Linked DNA regions of Homo sapiens. The protein of the gene in region 4 purifies or fractionates together with the protein of the main gene of each other region. This does not show direct contact. Each region holds a gene or a part of one and is shown on either strand. Other genes may lie near its edges.

Region 1 (7,293 bases), on a different chromosome or scaffold from region 4:
TGAGATACTATTTGCCTATTTTTTAGCAAAGATTAGAAGTATCCAGTGTTGGTGCAGGTGTGGGGAAATGGGCACTCATACACTGTTGGTGAGAATGTAGACTACTACAGCCTTTGTGGAGGGCAATTTGGCAGTATCTATCAAAATTTAAAATGTGCATAACCTTGGATCCAGCAATTCCACTTCTAGGAATTTATCCTAAAAAGCACACAAAGATATATGTACAAGGATGTTCACTGCAGCACTATTTGTAATAGAAAACATTGGAAACAACCTAAATGTCCATTAATAGGGGACTGATTAAATAAATTATGGTACATTTATACAGTAGAATCTTACACAGTCATTAAAAAGGAATGATTCACATGTACAGACATGAAAAGATGTACAGACATGAAAAGATGTCCAGGATACATTTTTTTAGGTGAAAAAAAAGTTGCAGAACAGTATAAGAGATTTTGTGCAATATAAAATGAACTGTAGACACATCTATGTACACAAATAATATATGCTTGTATGCAAAGAAAAAAGTACTGAAGGCTATGCATTAATTTATTAATAGTTGTTACCTCTGGGAGGAAGGATAGGGAGTGAATGGGCAAGAATGAATGCTTGGGGAAGATGAGAGCTTCATTCATTTATTATTTTGTTGAATAAGCATATATTATTTTTATAATTAAAAACCAACAAAGCTAGATAGATAAATAATTATCAGTACTATTTCTGCAACTTTGGAACTGCAAGGAAGCAGATGGGGATTCCACTTGGGAGTCTAGCTTTTATTAAGGTTTAAAATTATAATGTCTAAAGCAGTTCTTAATTTCATGAGTTACAAAAAAATAAAAGAGCAAAGTGGGAGTGGAGGATACTTACATCCACAGTGATGTCAATTACCCATTGTGGCACTGTTTCATTAAGAAGCATAGACTCAGTCTCACCCCCGGAATCTCGGCAGAGCAGCCTAAACATAAACCATCAAGTAGTAAGTAACCCAACAAGCACAGATGTCAAAATCACTGTCAACAAATATTAGCGGGAGGAACCCTCATGGTTTTCATGTAGGATAACCCCCACTTGACAGCTGAGGAAATAAAAGTACAGCCTGGAAGAATGACTCACTCAGCTAAAAGGGAAAGCAGGCCCTAAAATCAGGCCCCCAGATTCCAAGGCCAGGCATACACTACAGCTGCTTCTTGGAGTCCTTGGGTGATGACAGGAAACCTGGGTGCAAGCAAAGCACCCAGTAAAGGTCCCCAGCTAGTGCCACAGTGCATGGCAGAGACTTTCACACACAGTGGAAGTCAGAATATTTCTGGTAACCACTCAGGAAACTATCAGAAAGATAGATAATCCTGCACTCAAGAATAAGACAAGCATGTCTTATTCTTTCTTTCTTCTGGCACCTATAGACTAGTAAGCTCTCCCCCGGCTCTACCAGGACCTTGCTAGCAACTTGGAGGTGAACCAGTCCAGCCCTTCCCTGAAGGGCCCCACACATAACTGTCTGGCACCCCAGGCAGTGTCAGTGTCAGCCTCAACAGTTCCCAGGAGCAGCCCAGCTCATCTTGGCTGGATCAGCCTAAGAAAAGTAATGTAATGTACTCTGAAGCTCTTCTGTGGGCAGGGAATTCTAGTGGTATCATCTGTTGCTTGGCCCTTGCAGTCACACGGGCAAAGTGAAGGAAAGTGAGAATTACCTACAGAAACCAATAGAGAAGCTGCTTCGAGGCAAAGTATTCTACCTCATTCGAACACTAGAGTTTCTCCTCCCAATTAGAATGTGGTCTAACAGCAGCAGACATTTCACTATCTCATGGACATGGGATGCTTCCAATCCCTGGCATCCCTAGAATTTAATAATAAACTATTTCTAATATCGAAATACTGAGTTTGAGTCGACACTTCTTAGCAAATGGGATACCTTCTCAGGCAGAACCTCTTGTCTTTCTTACCCATACCTGAACAGTGTGCGACCTCCAGCTTCACCAAAGATCACGGGTGTATGTGGGGGCACTTGAAAATATCCATTTCCCTTCTGCACTCGGTTCTCCTGCTCCCCATTTACTAGGAAAAGATGCAGGTGGTGTTAATATCAGAGTTAGTGCTAAAAATACAGATTCTAAACATTTTACTCCCACAAGCTTCAAACATTGCAAGATTAAATTCAAATGTCCTCTAAGTCCACCAGAGTTAGAAATAAAGGTTAAAAACAAGTTAAATTTCTGAAAATAAGAAACACAGCAACTTGTGGTCTATTTCATGGAAAAAATGACTGTATTTTAGAGGATTTTAATAAAAGAGATTAATGTTTGAGATTCAGAACAAAAACATAACCAGCTACTTCAGCCACAAGGAAGTCTAGGACAGCCTGTATATAAACGAAGATCTAGAGTTTTTTTGTTTTTGTTTTTTGTAGAACACCAAGCTCAGAAAAATTTCTTGAGGAAAAAAAAATTACATTTAATGGCAGCCATAACTAAAGACAGAAGCATTTGTGAAAAAATCCTCAAGGAGTCCACAATTTTGCTTTTATTGTTCTCTGCAGATTTCCTTTCCACTGTTGTTTTTTCTTTGAGACGGGGTCTCATTCTGTTGCCCAGGCTGGAGTGCAGTGGTGTGATCACAGATCATTGCGGCCTCAACCTCCCCTGGCTCAAGTGATCCTCCCACCTCAGCCTCCTGAGTAGCTGGAACTATAGGCACACACCACCACAACTGGCTAATTGTTTACATTTCTTGTAGGGACAGGATCTTGCTATATCGCCCAGCATGGTTTCAAACTCCTGGGTTCAAGGCTGCTGGGCAGGGCAGCCTAAACATAAGCCATCAAGTAGTAAATGACCCAACAAGCACAGACGTCAAAATCACTGTCAACAAATATTAGAGGCCTCCCAAAGCACTGGGATTACAGGTGTGAGCCATCACGCCTAGCTCCATTCTGCTTTCTTCATAAACTTTTGACCCAGCACAGGTGGGTGATACCAACTCAAGTGCCAATTCATTCATGACACTTTCCTCATCAAACTGGAAGCATCTGACCCCCTGAAATCCTATAGCATTTGTGGAACCTCTCTCCTAGCACCCTTCTATCTCAGAATGCTTTCCATAAGTAACTCTCTGCCATACCAGAACATCAGCTCCTGAAGGACAGGGACCATACCCATGTGTCTTTAGTACCCCCACCTGAAACTTGGTAAGGGCCCCTGAATAGTAGAGCTGCTCACCAAGCACCATCTGAACAACTCCAGAGTGTCCACTGAGTATGCTGCAGGTGCTGTGGTCTGAGCTCTGGATGAGGAAGTAGCCATGCCCTGCCCTACCTTTCCCATGCAGTCTGATGTTAAGGATGACGTGATTTCTGGTGATGTCTTCCTTATACTCCTCACCCAAAGCCTAGATCCAAAGGGTGCATGACTATACCACTGTTTTGATAACTTAATCCTTATTGCTTATTTGGGTGGCTGAGAGTATCCCATCTAACTGGAAATGATTTGCCCACAGCAACATAGCTGTTAAGCAGCAGAGCCCACCCCAGAACCTAGCTTTCTTGACCCTCTGTGGAAAGATTTTTCCATCAGTTTCTTTAGCTCAAAGTCCACTGTACAATTCTGACAGGGATCAAAGTGTGTCAGGTGATGTAAAAGAAAAGCCACCATGGGTGGGGCAACAGCACCCTCTCTCTGACAGGAACATCAGAAGACTGGTTTTCAAGGAAGCATGTCATCCTCATGTGAGAGATTTAAATTCCACATATCATTATGGGTGAATCTGACAGCCAGAACAAAGTCCCTGGCAGGAGGTACTCGCCATTGTTGCTCACTCCTGGTGGCCAGCAGAGAATCTTCAGCAGAGTAAGCCTCAGTCGATGGGACTCAATGATTCCTCAACCAGCTGTAGGTTACACATGAGGATGTGAAATTCTAAGTTCTTGTTTCCCCTTCCTTTGATCAAACTGAGCCAAATGCATATATTCAAAACATGTTCTCCTCTGCTGCTCAGGGAACGTTACTGCCACTGCCTATGGCACACACACGTTTCAGATGTCCTCAGTGACATTAATTCTTTACACATGCTTGAGCATATGCCCTGTCACTTCTGAGTTGGAATTTGAATTTTTTTTTGAAACAGAGTCAAAATCAGGTAGGCCATGAGACTAGGAAATACCAACATTTCAGCCCAACATGAAGAGTGACTATGCAATGACAAACCTGGCTTTCTGATGCAGCTAACTACCTAGCTTTGGAGGTTAATCCAAAAGATCAGAGGTACCTTGAAGAATATTTTGGAAATAAGTCTGTTAAGGTGCCTCATTTTAAGACAAAAGTCATCTGAATATAGAGTATTTTATTTATCTTGAGCAGTCTCACTAAAAGCCATATCATAAGGTGGTCTGCTCTTTTGGAATCTCAGTCTCAGTTAAGACTGGATGGATGTTCCTACTTTGAGATATGGAAGAGAGGACAATAAACTGAGTACACCACAAATATTTTAGCTAACGGTTTAAGTAAGTACCTTTTAGTAAGTACCTTTTAAGTAAGTACCTCTAACTTTTTATGCAACTATCTGAATATAAAAACTAACCATGGTTTACTTCATTTTCCTCTTCATCCATTGGATTCACATGTGTTCTAGGCCAATATTCCAGGAGTGCTTGGAGTAAAAGTCCTCCTAAATTCACTGCAAAAAAGTTAATTAAAAAGAGATAAAATGGAAAAGCGAGTTACTTGGCTTTAACCTAAAAATAGAATAAAAATTGTAAGTTTGTACATATTCTGATGTTACATTCTTAACCCAATGCGAATGATGTCTAAAATAAAGACTTTAGTCATTTTGCCAATTCTGCTAAAATTTTATCTTAGAATGTTTAAAGCAATGATGCTATGGAGCAAAGACATATTCTACTTGGTTGTTCAGATACAGCTATTATTTAAAAACAAACATGAGAATCAGATTTTTTTTTTTTTTGAGATAGAGTCTCGCTCTGTCACCCAGGCTGGAGCGCAGTGGTGCAATCTCGGCTCACTGCAAGCTCCGCCTCCCGGGTTCACGCCATTCTCCTGCCTCAGCCTCCCGAATAGCTGGGACTACAGGCACCCGCCACCACGCCCGGCTAATTTTTTGTATTTTTAGTAGAGACGGGGTTTCACCGTGTTAGCCAGGATGGTCTCGATCCCCTGACCTCGTGATCCACCCGCCTCGGCCTCCCAAAGTGCTGAGATTACAGGTGTGAGCCACTGCGCCTGGCCGAGAATCAGATTCTTTAAACGGCTATTTCCATATGAAATTACTAAAATGATTTGTATACATTAGGTATTTGTACATACCACATTTTTAGGACATAGTCAACAAAATATAGAGAACTTTTACAAAGATAAGTACTTAGCAAAAAACAGCTCATATTCATCTTCTCTTTAGAAGGGAGGAAAAAAATGAAGGACACTTAAACTCACATTTTGGATCTGACCCATCAGGGCTGCTGAAACCAGCATCTTTTGCAGAAACCCAGGCAGCAAAACAATCACTTTCATCCAAAGTAATAGTTAACATCTATCAAAAGAAAAAACTTAGTGGCATCCCATTTGAATATATTCTCCAAACAAGTCTCTAAACCTTCATTTATTTGTACTATTTGACTAAAGTGCTAAGTCATAAATTCAGGAACCAAAATGTGTTTTGTGTGATTCAATGCAACAACACAATTTAGTTTCCTGGGATACCAAAGGCATTTTGTAACTTTTAAATTTTTTTCTTTTTTAATATATTTTTAATTTTGTTTTTTTCTTTTTTATTCCATTTTGCATTTTAAGTTTTAACACAAATTTTTTTTTTCACACCTAAAAACACAGGACTCTGTAACTAATAATAATTATAAGCTATAATGAAAATCTTCAATTATCCCAAATCATACAAGTATCAATTGCTAACTTACCCCTGTTTTTAAGTCTACTGAGAACCAATTTGGCACATACACCATTTTAAATCTTTTCTTAATTTCATCTTCAAAATCCACTTTGCCCAGATCTTCAACTTTACATGCCTATACATCAAAAGAAAGTATAATGATCAATATTAAGTGGTGAATTCACTTGATTCTGACTTTGCTATTCAAAATTTTACATATTTTCACATGTGTCTAAGTGAAACAGTCTAAAATACATTTCAAAAAGAATGTGGTCCTTTTTTAAAATAACAATCTGCTGCTATAAAAAATTTAAATTAAAAAAGCACAAAATAGTATTTGGGAAGAAACTGTATTTAATTGTGCTGATATTGATATAATATACCACCTCATCTTAACAGCAACGTGGCTCTTTCGAGGGTCCCAGTTGTCGGCCATCTTCTCAAAGGGGGACTGCTTATTTTCCCACATCCCATTGTTCCTTGATGCTCCATGGAGACCATTACTCTACCATCTCCCATGTAAAAACTTATTTCTCTGAGGCCTATGTCATTTAGCAACAGTAAACGGTACACCTTTCCTTCACTGCCATCTAGCAACCTGCCACTCTCCCTCATTTACTGGAGACTTGAGCCCTGGGGTCACTGTCTTGCAGTCCATCTCAACTAAATCTCTCTTCTACCTCTGACCTTGCCACCTTCCCCATTATCCTCAGCACATGACTCTGATTCCTTTTTCTCAAAACAAAGAGAAGCCTTGACAGAATCCCCTTAACTTTCTCTATCATTCTCCCTGGTGCAAGGAAAACGGTGTCCCTTCTGACTGTGCTCCGGTCCCCCTCACCTCTTGCTTCTTGGGATGACCTTGTATTGTCATCTACCCATGAATGTCTCTACTGGCTTCTTCCCAGGAGCAATGAAATATGCTCAAATTTCTTACATCTGAAAAATACCCAAATATCCAAACAAAACCAAACAAAATCAAAAGCTTCCTTTGGCCCTCTGACTCCTACATCTTCTCTAGTTTCCGCCGCTTCCTGCCTACCCCTCCAATCAAATTTCTTCAAAGATTATCCAGTCAAATTTTCTGTTTCTTCACCTTCAAATCACTACTCAACTCACTCTACCTGGCTTTTGCCCTTAAGACTCTACCCAGAGGCCACCCTCTTTATTTAAATCCATGATGTTAGTCACATCTTAAATCAACTCACAGCAGGTTAATGCCACTAACCGCAAGCTTCTTCTTGAAACACTCAATTAGTTCTGGAGCTGCCACTGGCTCTTCATTTTCTTACTCCCCCGCAACTTTTTAAAATCATATACTATTGTGGCTTCCTCTTTTCCCAACATCCCTGAAAGACTGATGACTTAGTTTCTTCTCAGTCTACATATGTC
Region 2 (7,293 bases), on a different chromosome or scaffold from region 4:
CTCCAAGATCCTTGTGGAAATTAACTGATTCAGTCCTCAGGCAAACGTATTTTATAGGCAGAAAAACAGGGATGTTTAGTAACTTGTCACAGTTCAAGCTGGCATAGCAGGGCTTTGAACCAGGCAGTCTGACTTCAGAGTTTACATTTGATAATGAAATCTGCTGAAGCGATATTAGTCTAGCTCTGACTTAAGTTTTTATTAATATCATCCTTTCTAATTTTGTTCATTTTGCAAGGATGTGTACAAAATGTTTACCTAGAAAAGAGATGTTGCACTAATTAGCGATCACCTAAAATGATTGTGCTGGGCTGGACGCAGTGGCTCACGCCTGTGATCTCAACACTTTGGGAGGCCGGGGTGGGAGGATTGCTTGAGCCCAAGAGTTCAAGACCAGCCTGGGCAATAGAGTGAGACCTCATTTCTATTTTTAAAAAATTAAAATGATTGTGCTGGTTGTGAAGAGATCTAGTTGCATAATTGAACTCATAATCTGAAACTGGGTTTTTTTAAAAAATTCAAACATATTACACTTTGCCCTTTAAAACAAAACTTGAAATTCCTCACACTGTGATGCACAGTGGACCCCCGTTGTCCCTGAGAGATGTGTTTCCACACTCCCAGCAGATGCCTGAAACCCAGGATGGTACCAAACCCTAGGCATGCTGTGTTTTTTCCTGTACATACATACGTGTGATAAAGTATAATTTATGAATTAGGCACAGTGAGAGATGAACAACAATAATAAAATGGAACAATTATGACAATATACTGTAATAAAAGTTATGTGAATGTGGTCTCTCTCTAAAGTATCTATTGCACTCTCAAAATATCCATTGTACTGTCCTCAACCACAGTGACCATGGAAAATCAAAACCACAGAAAATAAACCCTCAGATAAGGGGTTATTCCTTATGTGAAACTCATTGCCTGATGCTATCATGGTAGTTTCCTGTTTCTTAAAATTGGCAAATTGCCTACAGGGCAGGTTATATAATACAAAGCATCACTTTTTGCTATCAGATTGACATGAAAATAAGAGGTGAATGGATACCTGTTCTCTAAGAAATCATAGTATCTATCTGGAAACAGTATAGGTCAAGAAAGAAGAAATCATAATGTTTAGGCTGGGTGCGGTGGCTCATGCCTGTAATCCCAGCACTTTGGGAGGCCAAGGTGGGTGGATCACCTGAGGTCAGGAGTTCGAGGCCAGCCCGGCTAACATAGTGAAACCCCATTTCTACTAAAACTACAAAAATTAACCTGGTGTGGTGGCATGTGACTGTAATCCCAGCTACTCAGGAGGCTGAGGCTGGAGGATCACTTGAATCTGGGAGGCAGAGGTTGCATTGCATCGAGATCCCACTACTGCACCTCCAGCCTGGGTGACAGAGCAAGACTCCATCTGAAAAAAAAAAAAAAAAAGAGGAAAAAGAAATCATAATATTTAGTAAGAAAATCTCATTTGATTGGCATGGGTTCACAATTTGGCCGGTGTAGAGGAAATCGGAGACTGTATGGTACTTGGGATATACTGTTGAACAATGTTCCTGCTTATATTTTAGTGGAGGGAGAAAGATAACAAAACAATAAACGGGTAGTTAGTAGATGGGAGACACTGCTATGTCTTTGTATGCTGACAGGAGTGCTTCAGAGGAGAGGGAGAAACTGGGGATTCAGGAGCCAGAGAGGTGGTAATTGTAGAATGAAGTCTTTGAGAAGCTGAGAAGTGGGACCCAATGTAAGAATGTAAGTGGAAGAATTGGCTGTGAATAGCACTAGATACTTAGTCCCAGGAGGGAAAGCAGAGAAGATACGTTCAGAGTTGGGAGTGAAGGATGAGGAAGTCTGATTACATCTATTTTTTCTGTAAAATATAAGCCAAGGGCTGGGCGCTGTGGCTCACGCCTGTAATCCCAGCACGTTGAAAGGCCAAGGCAGGTGGATCACCTGAGGTCAGGAGTTCGAGACCAGCCTGACCAACATGGAGAAACCCCATCTCTACTGAAAATACAAAATTAGCTGGGCGTGGTGGCACATGCCTGTAATCCCAGCTACTCGGGAGGCTGAGGCAGGAGAATCACTTGAACCTGGGAGGTGAAGGTTGCAGTGAGCCGAGATCGTGCCATTGCACTCCAGCCTGGGCAACAAGAGCAAAACTCTGTCTCAAAAAAAAAAAAAAATACATACATACATATATATATATATATATATATATATATCATCAGCTAAGAGTAAAGAGTGGGGAGTGGGCATAGGAGGTTTGAGGAGAGACAGTGTGAAGTGGTCAGAGCCTGGGAAAGCGAATGAATTGAGGAAGTGTGGGAATCTTTAAGCAGTGCTGAATGCTTGTTTGTTATGGGTGTGCAAAAATTTAAAGTTAGACTGAGGCAGGGTCTTGTTGATCATACCTGTAGTCCCAGCACTTTAGGAAGCCAAGGCAGGAGCATCGCTTGAGGCCAGGAGTTCAAGACGAGACTGGGCAACATGGCAAGACCCCATTTCTACAAAAAAATATTTAATAAGCTGGGCATGGTGGTGTGCACCTCTAGTCCCTGCTGCTTGGGAGGCTAAGGCAAGAGGATCGCTTGAGCCCAGGAGTTTGAGGCTATAGTGAGCTAAGATTGCAACACTGCACTCCAGCCTGTGTGACCCTGTCTTGAAAAATAAATAAATAAATAAACAAACAAAAAAGACCAGTCAGCATGGTAGCGAGTCTTTCTCCAGGACCATTCACCAGCCAGGGAGCTGAGTCTTTAGAAGGCAGTGAGTGATGATGGTGTTGAACATGGATCCACAGGGAGGGCATTAGGGGCAGGGGGTGATGGACAGGAAACACATTGTAGGTAGGCTGATGGGTTAGACATGTGGATGAAGCTGAAGAGCTGCTGGATGTGAATACTAGAGTGAGCGGGCTGAAAGGATGGGAGGTTGGATCACAGAGGGACGTTCAGAGGTCAGTTGTGCTTTGCTGTGATGAGTTGGAGTTACTATGGGAGTGGGTAGCTAAGATGGGGAGTGGATGAGAAACCCAGCGACCAAGATGTTGGCTGGATCATCCTTGCGGAGGTTGAAGTGCCCCAGGAGGGTGATAACAGTAGAGATGGAGGGGAGGACCGGGGGGGGCATGCATGATACACATATGATGATCAGCACATGACAGTGCCATGAGGGGTTCTTGATGCCAGCGTCTGGTGTCTTGAACTTCAGAGAGCTGTGATCTGGAAAAAGACTGAATCATTCCAAAGTGACAGTGATAAAGAAGACATCAGGAACCTGAAGTTGATCAACAAGTATTTGTTGCATGCCTAATACGTGCCGAACACTATTCTAGACATTGCCATGTGAGGTGTGAACAATTAAATGCTTTCCATTCAAGAGGCTTCCAGGGGTAGCCAGATTTCTGTTGTAAGAGCCACTGGGGATCCGAGAAACGTGCTGATAGTAGATTTCACATCCCAGGGGTTTGAGAACAAAGAGGCTGGGAGATTGAGTCAGCGTAATACAGAGAAGACATGATTTTTGGTGGTGACTGAGGTAAACGGGGTTGTGAGGCACCATGGGATTAGCCCTCGTTCTCTTGTGAAGGGTTCAAAGTGAATAGTATGGGGTCCCCAGGCAGCATTTTCCACCTGTGGCCCCCAGTGGTGTGAGCCAGAGCCTCTTCCCGGGGTGTGCCCTCTTTGGCAGACGGGAACAAGAGATGGTGGAGGCCTCTTTGCTTCCTTGCAGGCATGTGACATTCTCAGAGCACAGGGGGCTGCCTGGCCTCTTCTCTCTTGCACTGTGCAGCCTTGGAGTCTTTGTGGACTAAGCAACTCAAGCTAATCCTTATACAACCTCTGACTGAGCATTAGGCCCCATCATCAGATTCTAGGCCTGAAGTTTGGCTACTGGCTTTTTCCTTCTGGTAAGGGAGTGTAGAGTGGTGGAAAGGATATTGGTTTGCTGATCTAGAGATTCCTTATTAACCCAGCTCCTGAACTGATCTGTTTCTCCATGTGATCCTGAACAAGCCCCTCACCCTCTCATACTCTAGCCCCTGAATTTCAGACAAGGAGAGTAGGTCAGATATCCTTAATATTTTTCCATTGAATACCTCTGATTTTATAAACAAATAGTGCCCAAATAGGGGGGAAAAAAGAGCAAAGAAAATAGATAAATCAAGAAAGAAGAAATCCGATTGGCAAATAAACAAACAATTCTTAACCTCACCAGTAATCCAAGAAATGCAAATCAAAACAGTGAGATGCCTTTTTAAATCGTCCATCAGATTGACAAAAAAATATTTAAGTGACACATCAGATATTGATGAGGTGGTGGGGAGAAGTGGCCCTTGTGTACAGCTCTAGTGAGAGTGATACAGATGATAGCAATTATTTAGGGAGATAGTAAGGGCAACAGAGTCCTCAGCAGAATTTCCCTTTTAGCAAAAAGCAGCCCCCAAGTAATTTCTAACAAGGCCAGCCAGAAAAATCAAGCGGACATAGAAAAGCAAGCTAGTAATTTGCACGGATGAATACCTGCAGCTGTGCCAATAGGAAAAGGCTCCCTGGGGGCCAGGCGTGTTCAACATGGCGGCCCTTTTTCTGTGTCAACCACGTGTACAGTAAAGAAACAGACAATATGGCGCTGGCCAGGTAGAGAACCACCTGCATAATAAAAGATTAGGGTGGGGCAGCCAGGTTTTCCACCCTATGCAAATGGCATACCTAGTCCAGCCAATCTTTTATGTCCTGTGTAAATCAGACATTGCGTCCTCAAGCTCGTCTATGAAACCCCATGCATTTTGCCATGGACGCGGCAACCCATTTCTCTGGGACCTCTCTGCTGCCGAGAGCTCTTCTCTTTCTTTTGCCTATTAAATCTCTGCACTTAACCTCACTCCTTGTGTGTCAGCATCCTTGATTTCCTTTGCATGAGACAACGAACCTCAGGTATTACCCCAGACGAACTATGCCATTTCAAGAGTGCATCCACTTTGAGAACAATTTGGCAGCATCTAGCAAAATTGGAAAACGTGGATACCCAGCAATCCAGCAATTCCATTTCTGATAGATATTCCCAAGAAACACATGTGCGAGAAGACGGATACACGATTACAGCGTATTTAGTAGTGGGGAAAAATTAGAAATAGCCCATATTGTCCTTTATTGGAAAATGGATTAATGAGGTGTGATACAGTCTTATTATAGGATACAATATAGCAACGAAAAGAAAGAAACTAGAACTATATGGGGTTTTTTGTTTGTTTTTGAGATGGAGTCTCGCCCTGTCACCCAGGCTGGAGTGCAGTGGTGCGATCTCGGCTCACTGCAACCTCCACCTCCCAGGTTCCATCAATTCTTCTGCCTCAGCCTCCTGAATAGCTGGGATTACAGGCACGGGCCACCACGCCCAGCTAATTTTTGTATTATTAGTAGAGACGGGGTTTCACTTTCTTGGCCAGGCTGGTCTTGAGCTCCTGATGTCAGGTGATCCTCCTGCCTTGGCCTCCCCAAGTGCTGGGATTACAGGCGTGAGCCACCACGCCTGGCTAGAACTATATGTTTTGATTTGGGTTAATCTTACAAGCAATGTTGAATGAACCTGGAATGCAGAGTAATGCAGTGTGGAATATTTATGTAAATATTTTTAAAACCATCTAATATAGATTGACTATGACTGCCTATATATTTATGTAAAAGCATAAGAATGGACTGGAATGATGCCTCAAAATTATGAAAGTGATTACAATGGGAAGTGGGGGCAGTGGTCAGGAGTTGGGATAAGATTTGGCATGACAGACTTCATCTGGAAGGTGTTATTTAATGTTAAAGGCAAGAAGCAAACAACAAAATGTTAATGATGGCTAATTCTGGGTGATGGGATCTTAGTATTTTTTATATAGTTTGTATCTTTTTTTTTTTAAATCTCAAATAATTTGAAGGTCAGGAATTATATACATCTAAAGCCTAAATCTATGTTTGGTGTTTTAAAATTATTCCCTTGTTGGTTGAATTTCATGGAAGTCGGTGTGCGGGAAGCTGTCTCATTGATTGGAGTAGAATGCTTGAGGACATTTGGCCCCGTGGCTGGCCCACTCTACTCACTAAGCAGTATTGGCTCCTTCTTAGCCCAGTGTCCCCTAAGAAGCACCTGGGGACAAGAAAGATGGAGACAAGGAGAACAAAGACCAGGCAAAATGGTGCATCTGTAGGTTTTTGTTTTTTTTGTTTGTTTGTTTGTTTGTTTTTTTAGTTTCAGCTTTCATTTTAGATTCAGGCTTGTTACAGAGATGTATATATAGTGTGATGCTGAGGTTTGGAGTATGGTTGAACCCATCACCCAGGTAATGAGCATTGTACCCATTAGGTAGTTTCTCTTACCCCCATGGGGTCATTTAAATTGCCTAAAGTTGAATGTTTGGAATTAGCCGTGCTTATTCTCTGTCCTTTCTCTTCTTTTCCCCTAGAGGAGGAAGACAATCTGTCTCTGCTGACCGCACTGCTGGAAGAAAATGAGTCAGCCTTGGATTGTAATTCAGAAGAAAATAACTTCTTGACGCGGGAAAATGGCGAGCCCGACGCATTTGATGAGCTCTTTGATGCCGACGGCGACGGTGAATCTTATACAGAAGAGGCTGATGATGGAGAAACAGGAGAGACAAGAGACGAAAAGGAAAATCTGGCCACTCTCTTTGGAGATATGGAGGACTTAACAGATGAAGAAGAAGTTCCCGCATCACAGTCAACTGAAAATAGGGTCCTCCCTGCTCCTGCCCCCAGGCGAGAGAAAACGAATGAAGAGTTGCAAGGTGCCCTAACTACTTGCCTTCCTTATTTCTTTCGGATAAGTTGGATGAAGACCACCAATCTGATAGTTGTCATCAAAATAGCTGCTGATTCAAGGGTAGAGATAAATGACTTTGTAAAAAAAGAAAAAAAGAAAGAAAATTATATGAGTTGGTAGATGAAATGTTTGGGCCAGCATTTCAGCACAAACTATAGACTCTATCAGTGTCAGCCAGCTGCACTTGATCCTGTACGGAATGGCTCTGAAACTTTTCATATTTCTTATGGAATAGTAGCACTTTGGGATGTATGTGGATGTGGAGCCAGAGACAAGGTTGCAAAGCTGCCACATATCTATTTGAGCAGAGCATTCCTGAACAGAAGCTTTGACACATGTTCTTTTCTCATTCCTGGCATCTCATACATGTTTAAGCTATAGTAAAATTCAATGGTTAGCTGTTTCTTCTAATACAGAAGCCAGCATTTATTATATTAGTTATGATATCCAATTTATGAAGTA
Region 3 (7,293 bases), on a different chromosome or scaffold from region 4:
ATGTACGGACAGCCAGCAACATGGGAGCAAGGGAGATCCCTTCCTACCACACAGGCCAGAATCCCCATGGAAAGCGTACCTAACTTGCTTGGAAAGTAAGGGAGAGAAGAGGGAGATGTTTGCATGCCTCCATAACTTTGCCCATGCTGTTCCTCTCCCCTGAAAGTCCTTCTCCCCCATGTACTGTCTGGCAGGCCCTTGTCATTCTTCAAAACACTGCCCAAATGTTGCCTACTCTATGGAGTCTTCCCTGACCAGTGGAATGCTGTGGTCCCTTCTATGAGCTTCCAGAAATCCCTCACTTAAACATCAGTCATACTGCATTGACTCTGTCTGTGTCTGACCCCGACCTTCACTGAGGACTCCTGAAGAGCAGGCATGTCACAGCCCTGGGTGCCCAGCATCCGACCCAAGGGTGCAGCAGGCCTCGGTGTCTGCTGAATGGATAAGGCAGCAGTGGCCAGGTGAGCAAGCAAAATAGGCTCTAGGGGAGGCTGAGACCCTGGCCTGACCTTCACTGACTGACCGGCAGCCCAGGCCTTGGCCTCGAGGGCTCCTGACTCTATTCTCACCCCTGCTGTGCCCCACTTCTAAGGAGTGGGGAATTTCCCAGGGGCACCCATGACTCCTTGAAAGCTCCTTCTCCCAGGAGGCAGGACAGGCCGCTTATCTCCCCCACCGCTGACCCCTCCCCCAGTCACTGCTGGTATAGGGAGGTCGGGAAAGTGGGGTACACTGCAGTGACCAGGCCCAGGGGAAGGAGGGGGCCCAGGCACACGCGGTCAGAGGTTGTCATACATGCGCAGGGTCTTCTCCAGCTGCTGGCCCACCCGCTGGTAGAAGAGGATCTGCTGGCGCAAGTAGTTCTGCATCATGTGCTTGAAGTCGAGCTCACGGCGCTGGTGGAAGTGGTTCATCTCGGCCTGCAGGGCGAAACCCACCACGCGGCAGCGCCTGCGAATGCCGTCTGCCTCGTCCTGCACCATGCGGCCCTCGTCACTCATGCGTTGGCTCTCCTTCACCTTGGCGAAGGCGCCTGGCATAGGCAGAGCAGAGGACAGCGTGTGAGGGCTCTGATCTCCATGTGCTCCCTGTACCCTTGAGGGCAGACAGCACCCTCATCAGCTCAACTCGGACGTCATTCCTGAGCCCCAGACCCACATTCCAGCCACCTGGGTGTCTCTGCCAGGATGTTACCCAAGCCATCACCCTCAGCACCTCCTAAACCAAGCACATCATCTTCTCTCCAAATGTGCAGTGCCACCAGTAGCCCACATGTGACCAGTCACAGCCCTGCTTGATGGACTATGAATTCAATGAGGATAGAGCCTGTCCTCAACCTCTCTGTGTCTCTGGTACCCAGAACAAGGCCTGGCCCACAGCAGATCCTGATATAGGCCTGCTGAACTGATTCAACCCTGTCCCTCACTGGACTGCTACAACAGCCCCGCCACGTCTCCCTGCCCTCCGCCCCAGCCTCTGACAGGTTCTCTGCAGCATCTAAAGAGGTATCCCAAGCTGGGCACCTTTCCTAGCTCTCCACTACCTACAGATCAAGGTCCACACCAATCTGCCTGGCCTGGGGGGCCCTCACCTCTGGGAGTTGGCCCCTGCACGCATTCCACACTGACCCCCATGTTCGTCAAACTCACCTGGCTCTTTCCTACCTTCCTACCTCTGCCCCCTGGATTCCTATTCATAATTCATGGCCCCGATCAGGTGCCACTTCTACACTGGAGCCTCTCCCAGTTCCCCTGACAGAATGTCTCTCCCATGTCACCTGTGCCCTGGCTCCCCACCCCCACCCCCATCACACTGCTGATTCTAAAACAACTCTTCAAAGGCCACCTGGTGTATCTCCCAGACATGCACGCCCTGTTCCCTCCTCATCCCAGCCCCCAGGGAACTCGAGGAGGTTGTGTAATAACCAGGTGACAGATGGGGGGTGGAGATGAACCTGGGCAGAGGACCCAATTTAGAAGAATCTGAATGAATGAACAAGCAGCTGGTGAATGAATTTCAGTTCTGAATTAAAAGGGACTTGACGAATTCTGCCTTTAAGCCAGTGGGGACAGTTGCTGGGAAGAGAAGGAAGTTTGCCTGTGCCTGGCACTCAGTCGCCGAGGGCTGCAGAGAATCCACCATACAAAGAAGATTAGGAGCAGGGAAGGGTTGGCATAGAGGACAGCACACCCCTGAGCACTGCAAACGCACCCACTACACACAGATAGCATGCTCAATACCCATGCTTTCCCACTTCTCCTTTAAGGAGGGCTCTTGAGGGCTGTCTAGATAATATTCTCTTCACTCCCTGGCTCAAATTGTCCAGTGCATTCTAAATGCATTCATTGAGCACTTACTGTATATCAGGCCCAGGGCTCTACATGCTGGGAATAACTCTGGATGCCTTTAGAAGGGGCAACATCCATGTTAGTTGATAAGTGCATGGCTAATCGGCTAATAGTAGCATTTCAGGCAAACAGACTCAAGTTCAGAGAGTCTCCAGGGCTGCTCACACAGCGCCCAAAAGAAATCTGCATTCCCCAGCTCCCAGCCCACTCAGTCCTTCTGCCACCTTCCCTGGACCACCTCCTGCACCATCTCAACAGCCCAGCCCTGGGCAGCAGAAGGGGGATCACCCCAAGGCCCAGGATAGGACCCAGTAAGAGACTTCAGAGCTAGAAAGGCCCAAAAGATCAGGTGTCCAACCCTCGATTCCACCTCCATCCTACTACTGTACAGAGGAGGCCAAGGCCCTGAGGGGCAGGAACTTGCCCAGGACTCCCAGCCTCTTTCCTGCCTGGTCCTCCACAGCTGGGGGTCGGACACCACTTCTGCTGCAGGGAGCCCATGCCAGGTCCTTCAGGCATATGTGTGGGGCCCCCAGACGTTGGACACAGGGATTCAAGAAGGTCCCAAGGAGTAGGAAGAACCGTAAGAAGAAAGGTAGAAAACAGCAGGGTGAAGAAACTGGAGTTAAACTTCCGCAGAAGGAACCTAGCTAAAGAGGAGATACTGAACTAGCCTGGATTCCACCTGCCGAGAAAGTTGGCACAGTGGAAGTGCATCTATAGACTTTTCCTGTCCATGGCCTTAGAGGAAGGAAAGGCCTCTTTTGCTGATGAGGAGCCCAAAGAGTAAGAATGAACCCATTGCAATGGTTAGGTATCCACAGACAGGCAGGAGGCCAGGGATGGGGAGCAAAGGCTGCAGAGGTCGGGGGGAAACAGAGGCCCCACCCTGTTCTCCGTTACCCCTCCACCCTGTGACTCAGCTCTGGGGCCAGGACCAGCTAATGCTAATGCACCCCACCCCACAGGCTGGGAGTCAGGGCTCAGGCCTGTCCAGCATCCCCCCGACATTCTACTTAAGACTTAACCTGAGAGCTGAGGACCCAGGGGGACCTCCTGCCTCAGCACTCCTCTTACAGGCTGGGTCCCAAAAATGCAGAAAGGAGGGTTGGAGCCCACCAGCTGCAAGTCCCAGGGATATTCCCTAAGCTCCCACCTCAATCCATCTTGCCCCTGCCTCTTGGAGACAGTTAACATCCACCCCAGGTTGGGGGCAGGAGGGAGCAGGAGGTCTGAGTCCTAGTCCTAGCTGTATCCTCTCCAGCAAGCCACTGCTCTTGCCTGGGCTCCAGGTCTCCCCACTGCCCAGTGGGACAGGTTGCACTAGATGTGATGCTGTTGACAACCTCTCACACGGTATAGTGCTTTAAGGAGTTTCCACATCTGTAAAATGGGATAATAATAGTACCTGCCCTATAGTATAGTTGAGGCTTAACTGAACTAATATGTACACAGTTCAAAGGAGCGCACCTGAGATACAATAGAAGCTCCAGATGCTACATGTTATGGCTTGAAAACTGCTTTTCTTTTCTTTTTTTTTTTTTTTTTTAATTTGAGATGGAGTCTTGTTCTGCTGCCCAAGCTGGAGTGCAGTGGCTTGATCTCGGCTCACTGCAACCTCCGCCTGCTGGGTTCAAGCAATTCTTCTGCCTCAGCCTTCCAAGTAGCTGGGATTACAGGCACCTGCCACCATGCCTGGCTATTTTTTTGTATTTTTAGTAGAGACAGGGTTTCACTATGTTAGCCAGGCTGGTGTCGAACTCCTGTGATCCGCCCACTTCGGCCTCCCAAAGTGCTGAGATTACAGGATGAGCGGTAGAGGGAAGGCTAGATGATGGCTCAGAACCCAGAGGCTGAACCCACCCATCCCCCAGGCAAGAACTTGTCCCTACAGTCGCCACTTTGCCTTGGCCACGCTGTCCCTATGGCCCCTCCATGGAAGCTCTGTGGTCCTGGGCCTCTCTCTAGCCCACAGGACCAGTGAAGGAGCACCCAAGCCTTCCTCCCTCCTCTTTCGCCTTCTGGCTCAGCTCTCCATCCCTGGGGATCCCCTCCCCCATCTGGGAGGGCACAGTGGAAACAGCCTGGGCTGCGGAGCCAGACACACTGGACTCCAGCTCCTGCTCTGAGGCTCATCTGCATCGCTGCACCTCGTCTGTAAAACGGAAGTGACCACATCGCCCTCCTGACCTGTCGTGAGCCTTAGGACCAGCCCCGCTCTTGCTGGCTGTCAAGTTGGGGGTCCATACGTCCCAGCTTGCCCTGGACAGTTACTTTCCCCTGTTGTCCCGGGATCACTATTGCTAGGGCCCCCTTTTATGCCCCAAACTGCCCTGGTTAATTATATGGTTACCCTTCTCTTAGGAGACCCCTGGATTGGGCTACAGGGACTAGGCCCGTGGGAGGACCAGGCTCCTCTCAGCTCCAGCCAGGGTTTATGTCCCATTTTATTTCATTTTATTATTTTTCTGAAAAGCATACAAATTTGTTTAATGTAAGTTTCACATGACATGGAGCCCTCCTAAGGAAATGAAGACCCTCGGGTCCCATTTTACTCACCTAGAGACTGAGGGGAGAAATCTCTCCCAAAGTCATGTCAGATGCAAAGTTTGTCCAAATCCTGGTCTCCTGACTCCCACCTAGGCCTCCACTGTCCTTCCTCCCACACACTCACCACCCATTCAGATGTCCAGACAGGCTGGACAGAATCCTGGGGGCCCAGGACCCAACTGTTCTTCTCTTTTCTTTGAGAAGGGCTCCACCCCTAAGGCCAGCATTAGGACCCCCTCCTTATCACTCCCATTGGGCTGTGGTCCCCAAAGCCTGTCCAGTTCTGTCTCAGTACCCCCTCCCTAACTTGCCCCACACCACAGGCCTGGGAGGAGCAGTGCAGAGCCCAGAACTTAGAGTAAGCCAGAGAGGGCTTGGCCCATTGGGAGGGGTCCTCCCGGGGAGGGAAGGCAGTGGGCTGGCCTCTGTTTCAGGTCAAATGCACCAGCACAGAGGACAGTGGCCTCTGACTCTTAGAAACACCTCAAGTAGAAACTCAGAAATGGCCTATCTCAGCTCTGTCTCTCTGCCCAGGGTCAGAAAGGCTGGTCTGGCTTCCCCCCAGCCTGGGAGGCCCTGGTGTCCTTCCTAGGTGTGGGGCTGCCCTAATGTCCTCAGCTCTGCTCTGGGTGGGGGGTCCCCAGCCACTGCATGGGAGCATCTGTTTAATCATTGCATTCCCCCTCCTGCTGCCTGCACAGGAACAAGCCATCTAAGGAGCTGGTTGAACCAGCCTTCCCACTTGTGCTCAGGGAGACACCTGCCCCAGTGGGCCCCCAGCAGGCCTGGCCACCTCCCCTGCCCTACTCCTGCCCCAGTGCTCAGAGCCAGAGCTAAGGTGTCATTCTGTTTCTGAGCCATACCCTCCCCAGGAGTCCCTTCCCACCCACTCCCTTGAAGGCCTGATGGCTCACTGGGACCCCATTCCCTTGTTTTACAGATCAGGAAACTAAGGCCCAGAGGGGCAAAGGCACTCCCCGGGGACGCACAGCAATCTAGGGGCAGAGCCAAGACTAGCACTCAGGTTTGTGTTTCCTGGAGTTCAGAGGAGGAGGAAGAAAGGTAGAGATGAGAGAAAAAAAAAAAAAAACAGAAAGAAAGGAAGAGGAAGAGGATATAGCAAGGGGAGAAAGGAGGCTGGGAGCTGGAGAAGTTATAGAAGTCAACCTCTTGGTAAAGGAAAGCAAGGCCAGCTTACCCCAGGCCCTCCCTGGTGGTGGTGGGTGACATGTTTCCTGTTCCCCAGGCTCAGTGCAGAGGTCTGCCCCCTGGCCCCACCCAGAGTCAAACTCCCCACCAAGCCAGGTCTAACCTCAGGGCCCAAGGGCCAGGGAGCCAGCTCCACGCCCTGCAGACGAGTTACCAAGCAGCCCCAGGGAGGATCACACCTCTCTCCTGACATCTGCCCTCCCAGCTGTGCCCAGGACTCAGGCACCTGCTGGGGCAGCCACTGGCTCTCTCCTCAGGCAAGAAGAGAAGCCAGGCTTGGGAAGCAGGAGTTGGATAGGCCATGTGGACAGTGCCCTGGACCCCTGATTCTGCACCCCTGGCCCAGCCAGAGTGCCCCTGTGTGACCCAGGATGAGTCATTTCCCCGGCAGTTCATGGACAGCCCCAGCAGTAACAGGCAGAGGCCCATCCTGTCCCTCCCCCACAGAGGGGGTCATGAGAACTGAAAACATGGCTAGGCTTGGGAAGTGGCCAACATGGACGTGTCCTTGGGGAGGTGGCAGGAGGAAGGGACAGTCCCAGCCGGGCCACAGGCTGTGCAACCACTCTTCTGTGGACACTAGCTCCTTCATCTGCAAAATGGGGACAGGGATCTTCCTGCACACAGACAAGACGCTCATAAAGAGAATACACAGTGGTGAGAGTAGCTTCCAAAGCTGCAAAGGTGGGGAGGTTAACTTGCAAGGAGCACAAGACAGGCCCCCACTCTGAGCTCTTGTTATCTGGGTTGGGTCTGTGTCTCCCAAGGGCCTACCGGCTCCTCAAGGGCAAGGCCTGGGGCCTGGTCATCTATGTGTTCTCAGAACCCAGCATGACACCATGCATGATGGGTAAACGAGATGCAAACAGAGAAAATGAATGAACTGACAAGAAGGTAAATATCAAGCTCCATGAGGACAGAGACCGGGCCTGTGCACAACAATATCCCTGCACCTAGAAGCACATTTGCCACAGACACAGAGTTGATATTCAACACATTTGTTTGTTTGTTTGTTTGTTTGTTTGTTTTAGAGACAGGGTCTCACTCTGTCACCCAGGCTGGAGTGCAGTGGCACAATCGGGCTCACTGTAGTCTCAACCTCCTGGGCCCAAGTGATCCTCCTACTTCAACCTCCCAAAGTGCTGAGATTACAAGCGTAAGCCACCGTGCCCAGCCCAACACA
Region 4 (7,000 bases):
TGGAACTTCCAGGCACCAGCCCCTCCTCCCGGTGGCCACCCACATCCTGTTTCTCTCCACCACCCTTTCCTGGGGGTAGTACCCCTCTTGCAGGGGGGCAGGGAGTGATCCCTGAATGTTAAGCCAAAGGTAGAGTGGACACAGGGAGCTTCTGATCCAGTCCCCTTGGTTACAGGCCTGGGGCGGAGTCTTCCCAGGATGACATAGGGCTGGTCGGGGTGGGGGGCATGAGGTCCCAATGAGGGGACCCCAATATGGTTAGCATTCACCCTGGACGTCCTGGTTCTTCAGTCAGTGAGTCAGGGACAGGTAGGGGGAAGGAGAAGAAGCCCTAGAGGACAGTTTGGAGGGCTGGTGGACAGTGGGCCAGGAAGGCTGAGTACTGGTGGCCAGCTGTTGCCAGGGAGCTGGGATGAGAAGGCAGGTGTGAGGCGAGGGACTCCAGGCACAGCAACTCCTGCAGCCAAGGAGTCAGCAGAACCTCTGTGAGCTGGGCCACCAGAACCTTAACTGGCTGTTAAGGCAGGTGAACGGAGTGCCTGGACGAGGACCTCCTGCCCGCTCCCACGCCCCACCCCTCTGGGCTCTCACCGCACTCGGCCCTTGGTGTTCCGGAGCACAGACGCCGCGAAGCTCTGGGTCACTCCCACCAGACTTGTTCCATCCACCTCCACCAGGAGATCATTCACCTGGATCCTAGCGGAGTGACATTGGTTAAGGGGTCACAGGGGAACCGAGGAGCGAGGGTAGAGGTAGCCTCCTCCCATCAGAAACTCCAGGCTCCCCAGCCTGAGTACATAGTGAGAACTCATCTCTACAAACAATAAAAAGAAAAATTAGCTGGGCATGGTGGCACGTGCCTGTAGTCCCAGTTACTTGGGAGGATGAAGTGGGAGGATCACTTGAGCCAGGGAGGTCAAGGCTGCAGTGAGCTGTGTTTGCGCCACTGCACTCCAGCCTGGGCAACAGAGTAAGACCCTGCCTCAAAAAAAAAAAAAAACAAAAAAAAACAAGAAAAGAAAACAACAACAAAAAACCTCACAGATACTTTGTCCTCACAGGGACCTGGTACTTTGTCTACCTGCGTAACATTCACAAGGCCAGAGGATTAAGTGTCAGCCAGGCCCACCTGTGTGGGCAGTGAGAGCCAGGCAAGCAAAGCAGACACAGGCGTCCAGGACCAGGAGACGCGGCAGGCACACTTCCTGTGACAATCACACTCTTGTCCCCTCCTTCATCATACTTGACTGAGCGGTGTGACATTCTCAGAGTTCATCTCTGCCATGCACACTGGCCAGGAGCCCCACAGCACACAAGTGACATGCCACCCTCTTACGTGTACATTTCTGCACAGAACTGAGTGCACAGATGTCCTCCCAAGTCCCCAAGACCGAATGGCACTCTCTCGAGTTCACACACTGTCCCACACACACCTGATACAGGTGCACCTGCCGACACACTCCAGTTGTGTCCCCTGAAGCCCGTGTTCTCCATACAAGGGGAGGTTCAGTCTGGCCTGCTGAGGGAGATGGAGGGTGGGGGGCCTCTCAGACACCTCCCTCCTCCACTCCACCTCCCTGGGAGCTCCAGGCCTTCTCTCAGGACTCCCACACGGAAATGGAGGAAATGGCCTATTGTCAACAGCTCACCCCAACACATGCCACTCCCAGGTGGGCATGAGTGAGTGGCCACGGCCACCATGCACACTCACTCCTTAGACAACCCACAGGCAACAATGGGAAAGGCTCTGGAAGTTCACATTGGGAGGGGAAGGGGTAAATGAAAGGGTATCCTGTTCCCGGCCCCTCTCCATGCCACCTGGGCCACAACAGGTAGAAGCCCCTTGACAGGGCAGCCCCATCTCTAGAAACAAGATCCCAAAGTCACCCAGATCCCAAAGGACACCTGCTCACCTCTGTCACATGGAGGGGGTCTGGGTTTGGAGGTACCACCACAAGAGATCCCCAATGTCACCTCTAACTTACAGCCACCCTGGGGGATGCCCTACAGCCCTTCCTACTGCCACTCCCCACACCCCTGGAATACACAGCTAACACAGGGGTCCCTGGCTGGCACACAGCTCCAGGATGCCCTCCCTGAACCTTCTGTCCCACAGAACTCACCCCTTGCAACCACAGATGCTCAATACAGGCACACACACTCACATGCGCAAAGACAGCCTGTCTCCAGAGCCACTGCCATCAATGGGTCTAGTCACAGCCTCCTGGCCCCTGCTCTCTATGCCCCAGCCACACCTGCCTGCTCATGGCGCCACTGCCTGGAACCTCTGCACTCACTCCCTCAGCACAGCTAACTCCTGCTCCAGCCTTAGCTCTCAGCTCCAGCACTGCTTCCTCCAGGAAGCCTTCCCTAATGCCCAGAGAGATTAAACCCTCCTGTTGTATGCCTTCACAGCAGTCTGCATTTCCCTCCATTTCACTACCTTTTGTGTGTCCATTTATTCAATGTCTACCTCACACCACACTGCACACTTCTCAAGTGCGCCAGGCCCTCACCATTGACTTCCCAGGGCCCAGCACCGGCCCAACACTGTCAGAGACTCAATGTCCAGCGAAAAAAAAGCTCAAATATACTCCATGCCTGTCTTCTCCCTACCAGGGCCCAAACTGTACTCCAGACCGGGATGCACAACACACGCCTATAGCCCCCATGGTCACCAGCCCCTCCTGGAGAACACACGCTCCTTCAGGGCATAGGGGCTGACAGTGCTCACTGTTGTATTTCTGGGGCCTGGAACAGCACCTGGCATGGCAGTGCTCCCCGAACATCTCAGCTGCACACACAGCACGGAAATCTCCCAGGGAAGGCCCGCCCCACCCCCTGCTCAGTGGCCCACCCCACCAAGGATGGCCGGTCGGAGAGGGAAAAAGGGTCAGGCGAGACTGGGGAGGATTGGTACCTGCCATCCCGATGGGCCGCACCACCCTCCGTCACGGTCTTGACGAAGATACCCAGCTTCTCCAGGCCCATGTCTGCCCCGGCGCCCATGCCGATGATGCTGATGCCCAGGCCCTCGGAGTCTGTGGAACAGAGAGTGGTGAGATGGCAGGGCTTGTAGGGGACAGACGAGAGACTCTCCACCCCGAATTCCAGGGCACAGCCCCCCCATCAGGAAGCAGTCCCCATTAGGGGATGTCCCACAACTGAAGAAGGGATATAGTTCTGTCCACCGTCTTTGCCAAGTCTACTAGGATGGCTCCTGAGCCGCTCCCTGCCCTTTGTCCCTTCCAAAGAACCAATGGGCAGAAGAGCGTGCCAAGGGTGGCACAGGCAGGTAAGACTGTTGCATATGCAGACCAGGGCGTGTGGCCAGGATGGGGGTAGCCAGGATGGGGGTAGCCAGGATGGGACTCAGCCCTAAGCCTTTGGTCTTCTCCCTCTCAGCCAGTCTCATCTGTACTCATAGCTTCAAGGACCAAAGACCTCCAGATTTTCTCTCCCCTGAGGTCCATTCCCCTATCCACACCTGCCCCTGCCTGACTCATGGCCCTCTGATGTCCCAACTAATGACCTTCCCCCACAAACACTCCCTCATGGGGGATGGTACCACCACCTGCCACCTGCCAGACCTGGGAGGCACCTGGATTCCTCCCTCCCACTCACAGCCTCCACCTGAGCCAAATGACCCCCAGATGCTATGGATTCTACCCCTGGAGATCTTTCCAGTCCACCCACACCCGCTCTGCCATCTTCCTGTCCACGCCACAGTGGCCTTTCTCCATCCACTTGTGACCCCCTCCCTACATCACAGCCTGGTGTGGTCTTTCTAGACCTTTCCTGTGCTTCGAAATGGCTCCCAATCCATCTTAGCAACAAGACCACGTGGTCTGCAAGGCCTCATTTGCATGCTCTTCTTGCCCTCCCTATGCAAATGCAGCCAAGCCCCTTTCCTGACTACTCCCCTAATTCCTCCTCACCAGAGTGCAACTCAAGCTTCACTTCCCTGGAGAATGCCCCCAAGCACAGTCTGGTTAGGTCACCTGTTAAACGCTTTTACAGTGGCCCCTCCTTACCTTCCCCAGCCCCTATTCCAGCGCCTAAGGGTGAGATTAGATGTGACTGTGCCTTCCATGTCTGCCTCCCCCATCCATCTCCCCAGGAGCCCACCACTGTGTCCCCAACACAGAGCCCAGGACCTAGCACACAGTACCCTACAGAGACCTGTTAACTGAATGTGCAAATGTGGTTCCATGACCGGGGTGGTGGGGGTGTGGCTTGGCCTGGGTTGGAGGCCCTGTTTGCTCTGGGTGCTGACAAGGGAGGAGCGGGGAAGGTCACCAAGGGCCTGAGTCAGAGGGAGAGGCCCAGCAAGTCTGTGGGAGCCCCTGAGGGCACAGGGCAGGAGCTGGTGCCAGAGATGAGACCCGGGTCAACCCCAGCTGTGCGCAAGTGACGTGGCCTCCTGGCCTCTCACCCTTCTCCAGCTCCACAGGGAACAGCTCCAACCTCTCCACACGCTTCTCCAGCTCGTACTCAGCAGAGGCTGCCATGGGATCCACATCCTCGTTGCGACGATCGTAATCCTCGTTGGAGTAAGTGCTGAACACCTGGGGAGGGAGGCAGCTGGTCAGAGAGGCCGGCAGGAGGACAAGTGCAGAACTGGCATGAGGAGGCCGAGGAGGCAGGCTGAGTTACCCACCCCATGCCTCCCCATGATAGCCCTGAGATGAGGCCTCACCCAGTCCCCTGAGACCCCAGCTCTGAGCAAAACAAAGGCCCTTATAGTTCTGGAGCCCAGGGTCAAGACAGAAAGGGACCCAGCCTTGGCAGACCCGCACTGCTATTCTCTCTGTAGCTCCAACCAGCGTGAGCATGGTCTGCCATAGGCACAGAAGGGGAATCCTGGAGAAACGTCCAACTCAGGAACCCAGACACCCAGATAGAGGGAAAGTGAGAGATAGGACCCAGAGAGCCAGACAGGCGAGAGGGGACACAAAGACAGACACAGAGAGGAAGGAACAGGCTGAGCAGAAGAGGGGAAGAGGAGGAGGGGAGAGAGGATGGAGAAGATGCTGGAGAATGCCAGATGGGGAGAGAGGGGGGAGCGGGTGTGAGACAGAAGAGGAGGAGGGGAGCAGGAGGGGTGGAAGGGGAGAGGTACCCAGGACTGGCTCTGACTTGCCGCTCAAGTGGATGTTGGAGCAGGGGAGGGAAGCAGGAAAGACCATCTCTATCCCCGTGGAGAAGAGGCAGGCCCTCCATCCCCAGGAGCCCCTCGGGTGGCAGAAGCAGGGGAAAAAGCTGGGCCTGGCCTTCCCTGCACACCCAGGCCGCTCTCCCTCCACAACTGCAGCTCTCTAAGTTACGCCCCCTGTCCATGTGCTAGGGGGCCCAGGAGACTGAGGAGGGGACAGCCTCTGACACTGCCCACAGCGAACCCAGGCGCCATGGGGCTCCGAGGCCACCCCTGCCTTGGCATCTCCTGTACCCCTCTGTTGTCTCTCTCCAATGTCTCTCAGCAAAAAGAGGAATTCCTCAGCTCTGACTCCCTCAGAAGGACAGAGAAGGTGGGGCTGGGCTCTGTGGGAATGTCTAATTCTGGGCCCAGGCAGGGGTGCCCCCAGTGGGAGGTTAATGAGCACCATTTGGGGTACCATGACATGCTCAAGCTTCATCGCCTGCAGTGACAGGTTGGCACCACTTGGAGCCAGGCGGGGGCGGGGAGGGATGGGGAACAGCTCTATCAGTTGGCTGAGTCTGAGCCCCGAGGAGTCAGACTAGGACCCCATCTCCCCCAAGGGCCCTTGTCAGGGCCCGTCTCCTCCAGGAGCAGACCTTGTGGGCACCCTGGTGGGCAGCAGCACTCTCGTGTCCCAGCCTTTGTCTGGGTTTGCTCCGTGTCGTCCCCACCCCCTACCAGAGAGGCTCACTGCCACAGTGGGAGAGGGAGGGGGTGCTCATAGGACTAGAAGGCTTAGGTGGGAGGGACCCCTCTGGTCACTTAGCTCAATGCCCTCAATTTCACAGCATCAGAGAAACTCTGGCTCCAGCCCTTAAAGCTCATCTGTCCATTGCACCCCTCGAACAAACAGGCTGCCTACCTTGCACATAGTCCAGGGCACCAGGCCCACTGCCCAAGGTCACATGGGTTAAACTGTGGCCAGGCAGAATGAGACTGCACCCAGCTGGGACAGGTGGGTGGGTCACCGGTGACTTGGTTTCCACTGCACACATGCCCCAGGCTCTGGGACAGGGCTGATGTGAGCCTGGACTCAGCAGTGGGATTTGGCCCACTTTGCACTGGAGTCCCCTGACTCTCACCCTCTGCTCTAGGAGACACGGTCCCTTCATCATTGAGTCTCTACAGTCTCCTGAGTCAACGAAACCCCTCCCTGACACACATGGACACACACGCCCGCTGTGACCTCCAAAACACACCTCACAGCCTGTCCTGGGCTGCACCCTGCCCTCTTCTCTCAGCCTATCAAATCCTGTTCCCTTTCTGGTCCTGCCGCCTGCAGGAATCCCAGGCCTGGGCTCAGAGGCCCCAGACCACCTCCTACCCCTCCTCGGGCTGCCCACCATGATATGCCGGTCTAGCAGAGGGCCCTAGGGGAGGTCCCACCTCCCTGAGGCCAAGCTGGAATTGGGTTCTCTGCCCTCAGCAGAGGCCTCCACCTCCAGAAGGGCAACAATTGGGTCATCCATGGGGACCGGGACCCTGGACTTGGCATCAAGGCAGGGGCAGGAAGAAGAAAAAGTGGGGCCCCTGTGCCAGGGTGGGGAGGAGGAAATCCCCAGTGAGGCTGAAAGCCAGCCACACTGGGCCCGCCACACACGCTGGCTCTCACACAGGGCGGGCCAGCTCCAAAGTCACCAGGGAGCCGGGAAGCACTGCTCCAAATCATGTGCTATTTTTTACTGAAAAATCAGGGTAAGGCGTCAAATATAGACAGTCAGAGGCCCAGACCAAACTCCAACTCTGAGGGAATCGGACTTCTCGCAAAATTAGTGGGGGTGGGGTGGGGGGATCCAAACT

What was found.
Region 1: the proteins of PPP1R9B (region 4) and WDR48 purify together in Homo sapiens (affinity purification with mass spectrometry; 3 studies listed by BioGRID and IntAct, with this or other methods). This does not show direct contact.
Region 2: the proteins of PPP1R9B (region 4) and MCM10 purify together in Homo sapiens (affinity purification with mass spectrometry, with the first as the bait; 2 studies listed by BioGRID). This does not show direct contact.
Region 3: the proteins of PPP1R9B (region 4) and SNX33 purify together in Homo sapiens (affinity purification with mass spectrometry; 2 studies listed by BioGRID and IntAct, with this or other methods). This does not show direct contact.

The regions. Positions count from the first base shown.
Region 1 is NC_000003.12:39,082,899-39,090,191, reverse strand, and holds part of WDR48 (WD repeat-containing protein 48), read right to left. Parts: intron 6,038-7,293; coding exon 5,930-6,037; intron 5,548-5,929; coding exon 5,451-5,547; intron 4,678-5,450; coding exon 4,582-4,677; intron 3,892-4,581; exon of another isoform or gene 3,808-3,891; intron 2,065-3,807; coding exon 1,959-2,064; intron 962-1,958; coding exon 874-961; intron 1-873. UniProt on the Homo sapiens protein: Regulator of deubiquitinating complexes, which acts as a strong activator of USP1, USP12 and USP46. Enhances the USP1-mediated deubiquitination of FANCD2; USP1 being almost inactive by itself.
Region 2 is NC_000010.11:13,164,468-13,171,760, forward strand, and holds part of MCM10 (protein MCM10 homolog), read left to right. Parts: intron 1-6,454; coding exon 6,455-6,796; intron 6,797-7,293. UniProt on the Homo sapiens protein: Acts as a replication initiation factor that brings together the MCM2-7 helicase and the DNA polymerase alpha/primase complex in order to initiate DNA replication. Additionally, plays a role in preventing DNA damage during replication.
Region 3 is NC_000015.10:75,650,705-75,657,997, reverse strand, and holds part of SNX33 (sorting nexin-33), read right to left. Parts: intron 1,037-7,293; coding exon 783-1,036; 3' UTR 1-782. UniProt on the Homo sapiens protein: Plays a role in the reorganization of the cytoskeleton, endocytosis and cellular vesicle trafficking via its interactions with membranes, WASL, DNM1 and DNM2. Acts both during interphase and at the end of mitotic cell divisions.
Region 4 is NC_000017.11:50,140,678-50,147,677, forward strand, and holds part of PPP1R9B (neurabin-2), read right to left. Parts: intron 4,569-7,000; coding exon 4,436-4,568; intron 3,042-4,435; coding exon 2,921-3,041; intron 697-2,920; coding exon 592-696; intron 1-591. UniProt on the Homo sapiens protein: Seems to act as a scaffold protein in multiple signaling pathways. Modulates excitatory synaptic transmission and dendritic spine morphology. Binds to actin filaments (F-actin) and shows cross-linking activity. Binds along the sides of the F-actin.